Homo sapiens: one gene and its partners. The protein of the gene in region 3 interacts with the protein of the main gene of each other region in a biochemical or structural test. Each region holds a gene or a part of one and is shown on either strand. Other genes may lie near its edges.

Region 1 (3,647 bases), on a different chromosome or scaffold from region 3:
TTCCTTTTTGGGTTTTCCCAATTTGTACTCAGAAACGAAGTTAGAGACCTATTGTGATGTTTTAAATATTCCTTTTCTGAGTATATACCATGTGATTCAAAATAGAAGACCAATTTCTCAGCCTGTCTTAAGTCATCTGATAAACTGTGTCCCATCACTCATTTTATCATAGTCACAATGTAGTTAAAATGTGTAAATGTATAAAAGTAAAAATAAAATTCTGATGTAAATAAATTTAAGATCTCTGTGTGCAGAGCATATTGATAACTGGCACCCAAGCAAAGACTGATATCTTGAAAGGGATCTTGTATAAAAGCTATTCCATTCCTTGCATGCTATTTAATTTAAAAAATGATGCACAGACTCACATTCATAAACACACTGAACCACACACACACACACACACACACACACACATATATAATATAGAACTTACACAATTTCATCATTCTGGAATTCGAGCTCTCCACAAGTGTCCTCAAAATCCTCCCCTCCACCTCTGGCAGTCCCTTCGATGGTTTTATATGGAACGATAACATTTCCTCGAGCTCCAGATGTTCTCAATACTTTCACCTCCATGATGCCAATGCTCTCACTCACATGAGTCACAGGTTCCTCAAAAGTAAAAATGCCTGCGTGGTCATCATCAAAAATAGTTACAGTGGCAGTGGAGGGAGATCCGAGGCAAGCAAGTGTAGAAACATGATTGGCTTCCAGTATGCCATCTTCTGAAGCTTCAGAAGATACTTTGACATTGCTGAGATGCACAAGGAAATTTTCATCCTCCTCAAAGATATCATCATCTATGATACCCACTCTGATTTCCTTCTGGGTATCACCAGGCTTAAACACCACAGTTCCTTCAGTAAATTCATAATCAGACCCAGCATTTGCTGTGCCATCCTCTGTTCTGAAGTCAACAAACACAGTGTTAGTCAAATCACCACCTCTGCGGATAATGGTAAGGGCCACAGTACCACAGTTCTCCAGACACTGATATGTCCCTTGTTCAAAGAAGATCTTACTAACAGGGTCATTTTCAGTCACTTCAGTGTTGACCTCGTGCATGCTGACAGCCTTCCTTGCTTGGTCAGCTGCATGCCTCTTTAAAATGTTGCCAGCTCCAGTCATGAGGCGAGTAGCTTGAATGCGATAAAATGCTCTACTTTTTTGCTGCTGACTTAGGACTTGGTAGTTAGCTAATTCTATTAATTGCTCTATTTCTTTATCTGGATGCTTCTGCTTAAGTTCCTTCAGAATCCTAGCCATTTCTCGCCTAGCTTCTTCATCATCTTGGTCCCTCTCATCCACCTCCAGAACCAGAGCACCATCTAAGAAATTTTCAACATGAGAATTGACCACTTTCCCGTCCATTTCAATTTCAGTCTTAGAAGATGGCCTGTCTCCTTCATGTTCAATAATCATCCCCCTCTGCTTGCCAGCTCGATACCTCTTGTAGACATACTTGTAAAACAGAAGTCTCCTATCCGCTACCCAAGCGAACACAACACAGATGGGAAAGAAGAAGAAAGTAAGCAAACCTTCCCAGACCTCCACAACACCAGGAGATATGACAGACAAAATAATGTAAAGCCAGGTGTAGGCAAAGATGCTCCAGGCTGCTGTCACAAAGAAGACACGCAAATGCTTAATCTTCCTTGTCTCTCCGTCAGGCACCACATAAACACAGAGTGCAATAATGATGAACATATTGAATGCAGCACTTCCCACGATGGTGCTAGGACCGAGGTCTCCTGCAGTGAAGTTATGGCCACACACTTCAATTACTGAAAGGAGAATCTCAGGAGCAGAAGATCCCAGGGCCATCAAGGTCAGGTTAGAAACTGTTTCATTCCAGATCCTCACAGTTGTCTTGGTGGTCTCTCCATTGGGTTTCTTTATGGTTATTTCTTTTTCTTGAGATGTGATGACTTCTATAGAGGACATGAACCGATCAGCTATGATAGAGACTCCAAGAAACATGTAGACCATGGCCACAAAATACACAGTAGCTCTAGCAATTTTGTCCCCAAAAGAAGGGTCTTGGGGTTCCCAAATGGGCAAAATCACCCCTTTCTTACAGTAATATGATCCAGTACATTCACCAGTTTCATTTCCTTCTCCTTCCATTTCTGTCTCAGCAATTACATGGTCCACATGGGAAAATAAGAGACTCACAGTAACTAACAGATGAAATCCCATTGAAAAGGTGGGTGAAAGACTTAATCGCCGCATGTTGTACATGACACTTCCAACTGTCACAACCTACTGGTAAAAATAAGATGGGGGAGAGGGCAGAAAAAAAGTCATGTCATTAGAGCTGCAGCCAAAGCATTACTAATTACTTATTTTTATTACTCTTACCAAAATTTGTTTATATTTGACCATCACAAAACCGAAATTTGTTTATATTTGACCATCACAAAATCTATGGTGAATGATTGTTCTAAGACTCCATCAGTGACTAAGCAATCCTTTGTAAAGTTTACAACTCAATCTTTCTGTGAATTTACTACATGTAGTACCCATTCACTGAGCAAGATACACAATTGACTTACTGGAAAGGAAAAGTTCAATTTATATAGCCTTGCCTTATTAAACACACATTTATGCATGCTAATAGCCAAAATCACAGGACTTTTGAAGCATTAAACAATTTCCTCCTTTTTACTAAAGCAGATTTTCTTCTAAATTTGTGTTAGTACATCATCTTCCAAAAACGGTTTCAATGCCAAAAGCACCTTATTACAATTGATGCTTTGAAAATCAGACTCCGAAAAAATCCCACCAACACAAGGCCTGGTGATTATCTTAAACGCCAGAGAGCATCTTACACTGTATTTCATGAAATCATGTCCTATTGCTCCACACTTACTTGGAAACAAAACTTCAAGCTTGCCTGAAATCAAAGCTCAATGGCATTTGTTCTTGAGGAGAAAAAAATTCTGCTATAATGCAATATTTCCACACATTAAGTACAGTTTTTAAAAGCATGTTTTGATGAGAGCACATTTCTTTCTAATTTTCAGCCAGCCCAGGTCTGCTGATACATTAGCAGCTGGGCATCTGGTTCTTCAAGCACAGCTCTTCACATCTGTGTACAGAGCCTGTTTTTCTGCAGGCTGGAAAGGGAGATAAACAGGCCAAGGCCTAGTTGTGGGTAAGCGCCTGGCAGGCTGTGGAATCAGCGTCACCAACCTTAAAATGTTCCTTCTCGGTGTCGGTCATATTTTCCATGGTCATTCTAAAATACATATTAGTTCTGTCGAGGGTTCAAGTGACCAAAAAATGCAGGACCAATAATTCCATTTAAATTAGCTCATGTGGCATGACAAGAGTGACCACAAAATATACACATGATGAAGGACTGTAGGCAAGGAGGGCCATGGCAACAGAGTCAGTGAGCAGCACACAAAGCTTGGTAGGCATAGCAGTGGACTCAACCACCATGGCCTTAAGTCCACCCACCAGCTCAAGCAAAACTCTACTCAGACCTTACATCCCTTCTGCTTCCAGAACCTGGGATGGAGGTGAGGGGAAACTGAAGTAGAGGAAGGTCTGCTCCAAGTCAAGGTGACTGTCTCCCAGGCCTTGCAGGATGGACTAGTTATGACATCAGATAAAGCAGCAATAGGAAGAAGCCCTGA
Region 2 (3,647 bases), on a different chromosome or scaffold from region 3:
TTAAAGTGATTTTAACTCAGTGCTCAATGGAGCCCAGGCTGGAGTGCAGTGGCGTGATCTCGGCTTGCTACAGCCTCCACCTCCCAGCCGCCTGCCTTGGCCTCCCAAAATGCCAAGATTGCAGCCTCTTCCCGGCCGCCACCCCATCTGGGAAGTGAGGAGCGTCTCTGCCTGGCCGCCCATCGTCTGGGATGTGAGGAGCCCCTCTGCCTGGCTGCCCAGTCTGGAAGGTGAGGGGTGTCTCTGCCCGGCCGCCATCCCATCTAGGAGGTGAGGAGCGCCTCTTCCCGGCCGCCATCACATCTAGGAAGTGAGGAGCGTCTCTGCCCGGCCGCCCATCGTCTGAGATGTGGGGAGCGCCTCTGCCCCGCCGCCCCGTCTGGGATGTGAGGAGTGCCTCTGCCCAGTGGCGACCCCGTCTGGGAGGTGAGGAGCATCTCTGCCCGGCCGCCCCGTCTGAGAAGTGAGGAGACCCTCTGCCTGGCAACCGCCCCGTCTGAGAGGTGAGGAGCCCCTCCGCCCTGCAGCCGCCCCGTCTGAGAGGTGAGGAGCCCCTCCGCCCGGCGGCCACCCCGTCTGGGAAGTGAGGAGCGTCTCCGCCCGGCAGCCACCCCATCCGGGAGGGAGGTGGGGGGGTCAGCCCCCCGCCAGGCCAGCCGCCCCGTCCGGGAGGTGAGGGGCGCCTCTGCCCGGCCGCCCCTACTGGTTAGTGAGGAGCCCCTCTGCCAGGCCACCACCCCGTCTGGGAGGTGTACCCAACAGCTCATTGATAGCGGGCCATGATGACAATGGCGGTTTTGTGGAATAGAAAGGGGGGAAAGGTGGGGAAAAGATTGAGAAATCGGATGGTTGCCGTGTCTGTGTAGAAAGAAGTATACATGGGAGACTTTTCATTTTGTTGTGTACAAGAAAAATTCTTCTGCCTTGGGATCTTGTTGATCTGTGACCTTACCCCCAACCCTGTGCTCTCTGAAACATGTGCTGTGTCCACTCAGGGTTAAATGGATTAAGGGCGGTGCAAGATGTGCTTTGTTAAACAGATGCTTGAAGGCAGCATGCTCTTAAGAGTCATCACCACTCCCTAATCTCAAGTACCCAGGGACACAAACACTGCGGAAGGCCAAAGGGTCCTCTGCCTAGGAAAACCGGAGACCTTTGTTCACTTGTTTATCTGCTGACCTTCCCTCCACTATTGTCCTATGACCCTGCCAAATCCCCCTCTGCGAGAAACACCCAAGAATGATCAATAAAAAAATTAAAAAAAAAAAAAAAAAAAAAAAGACAGTCAAACCAGTTCATTAGAGAAAATCTGAAAAATGTAAAAAATCAGAAAGGAAAAGTCACTCCTCAACCCATCGCATGAAGACGCCCTCTTCCGCTGGCCTTCTCCCTGGGACCCTCAACAAGCCAGAGCCTGAGGGTCCTCTAAGCACTGGCCCCGCACGGCCCCTCCCCGGCGAGACCCTGAGGGAGCCCAGGCTTTCTCTGATGGGCCCTTTGCTTTGGACTCAGTGCTTGAAGGAGAGGAAATGCAAAGGATGGGGCCAACGGCCACACACCTGGTCAAACTTCTTCTGCTTCTTCTCCAGGTTGCACGCGCTCTGGCGCTGGTGGTCCAGGTCCACCAGCAGGTCGTCCAGCTCCTGCTGCAGCCGCGTCTTGGTCTTCTCCAGCTTGTCGTAGGCGGCCACCTTCTCCTCGTGCCGCTGGCTCAGGCCCTCCAGGTCCTTCTGGAGCTTCCTCTTCACCTCCTCAGCAGTTTCCAGGCACCCCACACTGTCCTCCATCTTCTTTTTCATGTCGGCCACCTGGGCAGGAGCAAGGAGTAAGCAGATGCCCGAGATGGCACCTGCTCAGGTGGCACACCCGTCCCTGGGGCAGCTGGGAGCCTGCCTGCCACACCGTGGAAGGGGCACCAGGGATCTGCCCAGTTATGAAACCGCCTCCCCCAGTCACTTCCCTCTCCACAGGGGCGAGACAAATGGAGCTTCTGCAAAGGGGCATCTGTCTACTGTGTGAAGCCCGGGGGAGGCTGACCCCCAGGCCCGCTGTGGGGGCTCCCAGCCCACATCCACACCAAGCCTCTTGCTCTACGGAGACTGCTCCCAGAGAGCAGGGCCAGTGCCCTGTAGGGTGTCCACGGGGTCCCCATCACCCAGCCCCATCCTTGCACTTGGAGATAAACCCACAATCAGGCACGCTCGCGGGCTACTCCTACCCTGACTGTGGAATGGACTCCCAGCCCATCCCGAGGTGGTTCAGGCCTTCTGGCCTGGCACATGGAGGCCCAAGATAGGATCTAGAGCAGGGGCTCTGAAACCATATTAGGCTACGGACCCCTTCGCAGTCTAGAGAGGCCAAGGGACTCCTTCTCATGACAATGTTGTAACAGGCATGAAATAAACATGGGATCAGCAGGGCAACCAGTACAGAAAAATGCAGTTGTCACACATTCTAAAAAACCATGGCTCAGGAAGCCACGTGCTGCTAGATAGCACATCAGATAACAAACAGCGCAGGCCTGGGACCCATGAGGCCAAGGAGCTCGGCCACAACCCTGACAGGGTAACTGGCCATTTCTACAGATGATGACGGCACAGGGACTGCCACCACCATGGCTTGCTGCCTACATCCATAATGGAAGCAATGCTGAATTTCAGCTAAAGACTGGTGAAAATAAAGGTGTAAAATAGTGAAAATAGTGGTGTCCCCCATCTAAGTCCACAGATCCCTGGATTCCTTTCCTTGAGAGCACTGATGTGGGAGAGCACGGTTGGCTTCCCAGGGGGAGAGCAGCAATGGGCCGGCCCAGCGGGCAGGGCTGTCCTGCAGTGCCCAGGCCAGTGCCCGGCCAGCAGCTCCCCAGCCTGCAGAGTCCGGCCGGTCCCCCAGGCCTCCAAACCTGGGCATGGAGGGTGGCGATCTGCTTCTCCAGGTTGTGCTTGGCCTCCTCCTCCTCCTCCAGCTGCTCCCGGAAGGAATTCTTCTCGTCCTCCACCTGCTTGAGCTTGGTGCTCAGGCTCAGCTTCTGCCGGTTCTCCTCCTGCAGCAGCTCCTACTCGCGGGTTGAGAGGGGTGCGGGTGCTTAGGAGGGTGGTGTCCAAAACCCAGGAACCCCACACCCTTGAGGAGAGGGAGGAGCTGGTCCTGCTGATTTAGGGGATGGCCACGTAAAGACCTGGAGGGAGCTGGGAGGACGCAGAGACCCACCCACAGGATGAAGCAGATGAAGGAGAGGATGGGCAATCCGATGGGCTCTGAAGCTAATGTTGCGTGGACACAGAGGCCTTTCTGGAGGGGTCCACCTTCTGGGAACCTGGCGCCACCCCTACCTGAGTGTCCTGCAGCTGGGACTCCAGCGCGGAGAAGTCCTTGGTGAGCTTGCTGGACTTGCTGTCGGACTGGCTGAGAAGCCCGGTCACGTTGTCCAGCTCCACCTGCACCGGGCGGGGAGACACAAAGGACCATGGACCCACCCCCACTGCTCCTGCCCCACCTCATCTCCTTTAGGTAAAGCTGGACCTGAGTCACAAGCTGAACCATGAGGGTCTGAGGAGCCAGTTTGAGAAGAGAGAGAGACAGAGAGCACACATGCACCTGGGGACCTGGGCCACAACTGCTGCTAGGGCCCACTGCCCGCGCCAGGG
Region 3 (4,202 bases):
TGTAGGTCACCAAAGAGAAGAAGAAATAAGGCAAGTGTCTGGTGGGAGGAGACACTTATTGTTCCTGGGGTCTCTGGAGGCCCCTTGGTGGGGCTGGATCACTGGCTTCCCCCAGAACAGGGCGCCGCTCCATGGCTCTGCTTGTGGTAGTCTGCGGCTATGTCTCCCAGCAAGGACAGAAACTCAGAAAAATCAATCTTCTTATCCTCATTCTTGTCCTTTTTCTCAAAGACAGTGGCGAGGTAATGTATGCCCTTTTTGTCCTGTGAAGAGAAAAACATACAAAATAGAAAAATTCAATCACAAACAAGTTTTGGGCTGGGAGGGGAGAGGAGGAGGCAGAGATACAGACAAGTACCTAGATCTGCACAGGCATGGTCGTGGGGCTGAGAGCACAGGGTGAGTGGGTGAAGTTGGGGTGAGGACGTGAGTGTTATCCCTGGAGTTCTCTAAGGAGACTTTTTGTCTCACACCTCAGGATGGGAGGCAGGTCCTGTCCCGAGGCACTCTGTTAAGTGACCTTGGGGAGAGCAGTCCCCTGCCCCAGCCTCAATCTTGCCTGTTCCCAGCATTTAAGGGCACTGCCTACCTTAGTTCTACCCCAGGGCCTCAAAATTGGCCCTCATGCTTTGTTCTCTTCTTTCTCTGACCTCCTCTCCTTTCTTCTCCTTTTCCACCAAACTCATCTTCTGGGTTCCCTACTCTTGGTCATCTAGACCCTTTGGTACCTAGTAGCCCACAGGTTTTTTCAGATTTGCCAATGAGTTTTCTTTATTGCAAAGAGGGCTATTGATTTCTACTAGCAATGGAACTTCTAGTGCTTTCCCAGTAATCTCAGGGATGTTGATGTGGGGCCTTTGGGAAGCAGGACCTGAGCATGTGAGTTTCAGTCTCACAGAGAGAGGGTCAGTGAGCGCTGGGAGGGGACTGTGCACTGTCCTCAAGCTGCACACTTTGCTGACCATCTAATAACCTCCTTTATATCTGTATAACTCTTTCCCATTTTCATACTTTTTCGCCTACCATCCTTAGATTCACATATGATCCAAGCAATAAAGCCCTATTTGCAAATGGGAAACTTTTTAATCAGAGGATGAGGGTGACCTGTCCAAGGCCACATAGCAAAATGTATCCTCAGCCATGCCAGGGTCCAACCAACATTGAGAAGCTAGACCCCAACTCACACAGGCACTGAGGAAATTGGGGAAGTTCTCCTTCATCATCGTCAGCAGGCTTGGCTTCTCAATCTTGCCATCACGTCCGGTGTATTTGTGAAACATGTCGATCATGCCTATTATGGACCTCTCAGCTTGAGTGTTGCTCATCTTTGCTTTCAAAAAGCCTTCAGGAAATAAAGACAATCATTTCTTACCTTAGTTTGAATTAAGGTCTCTATGTGGGGGTGTTAGAAGGAGGGCTGAGGACAGAGTAAAAACAGCCCTAAGATGGAGCAGAAGGAACTTGATTTTTTTAAATGTGATGGGATAAGTTGTTCAAAAATGAGAGGGTAGGACCAAGTCTGAGACCCGGCCCATCCTGGCCAGGGCCAAGAAGAGATGCAGGTGGATGGCAGAAGTCCAGCTGTGGACAGTGCTTCAGAGAAGGAGAAGCAGGGAGAGTCGGAGGCCAGCAACACATAGAAGAACTAAGCTGGGACCCCCCAGCCTCAACCAGCACATGGCGGACCCCACTCTTGAAACAGCACCAAATCCATCTCCTCCAGCTTCACAGTCGGGGTGAGAGTCACGGGGGCAGGACAATGGCCTTGGTGATCTGGTGTCTGACCCTCCTCGGCTGCTTCAGGAACCAGACACCGTGGGCCCCACCTTGACTCAAGTGCAAGCCCTGCATGACACAGTGCGTGCAGGCTCCAGGTGCACATGTGAGCGTGGACATGAGTGTGAGCAGGAAACACAGCCCTCTCCCGAGGACAGGGGGCCCTTCCTACATTCCCTTGGGAATGAGAAACAAGAATTGCCTCTGTTACAAGGAACAGAAATAACTCCCTGGTTCTTAAGCTGCTGGATGGGGTGGGAGTGAGGTGGGAGTCGCTTCATGTCTGCTCTTGGGAAATATCTGCACCCTCTGAATCACCAAGGGTTGACCCTGTTTAAATAAAAATGTCTGACTTTCCAAAGCAGATCTTCCAGCCAGTAGCCAGCCTGGGCTGCCCTGCACCCCAAGCCTGAAAAATAAGACAGTGCAGCTCTCATTTCTACACTTTCCAAAGAACCAGAAAAGGACCTTGGCTAACGCATGTGGGCATCTGACAATAAACCCCCAACACCTCTCAACGCAGGAGAAAGCTCCGTGCCAGCAACTGACTAAGAGAAGCCACTCAAAGCTTTCTGAATCTGAGGCCAAGGCCAAGGCCAGAGGCCAAGCCCTGTGCCCAGAGATTGACTGAGAATTTACAGGTCCAAGGCCTGGGGGTTTGGAGAGCCTCCAAAGCATTCACAGGGGATCCTTATCCCTCCTCCCTCTGTGGGGGCAGAGCTGGGGAGGGGATTCAGCAACTGGGATCCCAAAAGGAGAATGAATCCAGGGAGGAAGAAGACAGGAAGGAAAGGGAGGGTCCTGTGCTCAGGTCCCACTGGGGACATTTCCACAGGAGTTGTCTCAGGAGATCCCAAAGGAGCAATGGACAGGTCTGGTTCAGCCACCTGGTTGTACAGACGTGGGCTTTTGGGGTCAAGTGAAGGTCACACAGCCCAGCTAATGGCAGAGCTGGCCTAGACCCAGGCTTCTGAGACTTTGTCCACAGCCCTTTCCCTTCCTACAGGCAGCATGGCAGGCTGGGCACTGGGCACTTCTAGAAAATGCAAAGAGGCAGGTGAGACTTACCAGAACTGGGAAGTGTCACGAGTAGAAGGATGAGTGAGATGTGTGTGTTTGGACAAAGAGCAGTCCTTTATAAGGCTCAGCCTGGCTCTTCCCACGGGTTGGGAGGCCTGGGGCCACCTCTGTCATCTGTTTCTTGGAGGCTTGTCCCATATCAGGTGTGTGGGACACACCCAGGAGGCTGTGCTCAGGATTTCTGGCCAGGGTCCCAGGTCACCAGGTCCCACCCCACCCCAGAGACCTCACCTGGGGCCTTCTCTGGCTCAATCTTGATTTGAGGGTAAGGCAGCGGTACATGTGTAGTAACAGGTCAGGAAATGGGAGAAAAGAGCACTGGGCCTCTGGACCCAAAGAGAATGGAGTTTCAGACTCCCAAAGGCAGCATGGTCTTGTTTATTCCCTCCCCCAGTACTTCCACACATTTGTTGTGACAGCCTGTTCTATGACCCCCACCGCTTACTGAGCGTTTTAATGTCTAGACATCAAGACACCTGCTGCTCTTGCATCCTCCTCAACCCTCCCCTCATAGTCTTAAGAAGCAGGTGCTGCAATCTCTATTTTAGGAAAGGAGAAGTTGAGATGTTCCCAAGTTTACTCAGCTAGTAAACACAACAAATCATCACACGAACAAAGAAAAGCCTGAATCAAATCCTTACTCTTATCCCCTGTGCTATAGGTCTTGGGTTGCATCAGGGTCTGCCCTATGGGAACTCAAAGTCCAGGGAGGGAAGCAGGATTACTTCATTGCTAACCATTGGTCAGCCCCTCACAGAAGCCCTGGATTTAGGTGGGGGGACTGGGGTCAGGGGCCTCACTATCTAGGTTGAGTGGTGGAGTGACCCCCGCCCCCCCCGCCCCATGGAATGAGCCTGGAGGTAGGGAGTGGGAAAAGTTCTTTCCTGCCCCATGGCACTAACTTCCCAGAAAGTCTTCAGTGTTTTTCCTCCTCCTATGCAAAACAGCCTGTGTAGGAGTTGGGAGTTGTGCCCTTGGCTATAATGTGCCCTAACCTGCTGTGGAAAGCCTGAACCAGGTAGGGGCAAGAGGGTTGGGAAGGCACAGGAGTCCCTGGGGCATGGTGAGGAAAAGGAGATGATGAATCACTGAAATGGACTTTTTCTGCTACCCCCTTACAATGTTCCTTGTAGGCCGCAAGAGGTCCTGGTTCATTTAGTGCCAGCCCTTTAAGCACTCTGGGGCTCCATAGAGCTGATGTGATGTCTCCCTAGGTGGGACCTATTTTCTCCACCCATCATCTTTCTTCAACTTCCTTCTCTGTCAGTTCTTATGTAACCAGGGGGACCTGTTTCTCCCTCTCCCAGTTTCCCATATGACGGCAATATTACTTTTAGCGGCAAAAG

Evidence for each region.
Region 1: the proteins of S100A7A (region 3) and SLC8A1 interact in a biophysical measurement, tested with the Homo sapiens proteins (one large-scale study listed by IntAct).
Region 2: the proteins of S100A7A (region 3) and MYH9 interact in a biophysical measurement, tested with the Homo sapiens proteins (one large-scale study listed by IntAct).

Annotation. Positions count from the first base shown.
Region 1 is NC_000002.12:40,428,037-40,431,683, forward strand, and holds part of SLC8A1 (sodium/calcium exchanger 1 isoform A precursor), read right to left. Parts: intron 2,269-3,647; 5' UTR 2,245-2,268; coding exon 437-2,244; intron 1-436. UniProt on the Homo sapiens protein: Mediates the exchange of one Ca(2+) ion against three to four Na(+) ions across the cell membrane, and thereby contributes to the regulation of cytoplasmic Ca(2+) levels and Ca(2+)-dependent cellular processes.
Region 2 is NC_000022.11:36,290,427-36,294,073, forward strand, and holds part of MYH9 (myosin-9), read right to left. Parts: intron 3,438-3,647; coding exon 3,333-3,437; intron 3,056-3,332; coding exon 2,903-3,055; intron 1,809-2,902; coding exon 1,560-1,808; intron 1-1,559. UniProt on the Homo sapiens protein: Cellular myosin that appears to play a role in cytokinesis, cell shape, and specialized functions such as secretion and capping. Required for cortical actin clearance prior to oocyte exocytosis. Promotes cell motility in conjunction with S100A4.
Region 3 is NC_000001.11:153,415,206-153,419,407, reverse strand, and holds the start of S100A7A (protein S100-A7A), read right to left. Parts: upstream 2,889-4,202; 5' UTR 2,845-2,888; intron 1,343-2,844; 5' UTR 1,326-1,342; coding exon 1,185-1,325; intron 264-1,184; coding exon 99-263; 3' UTR 1-98.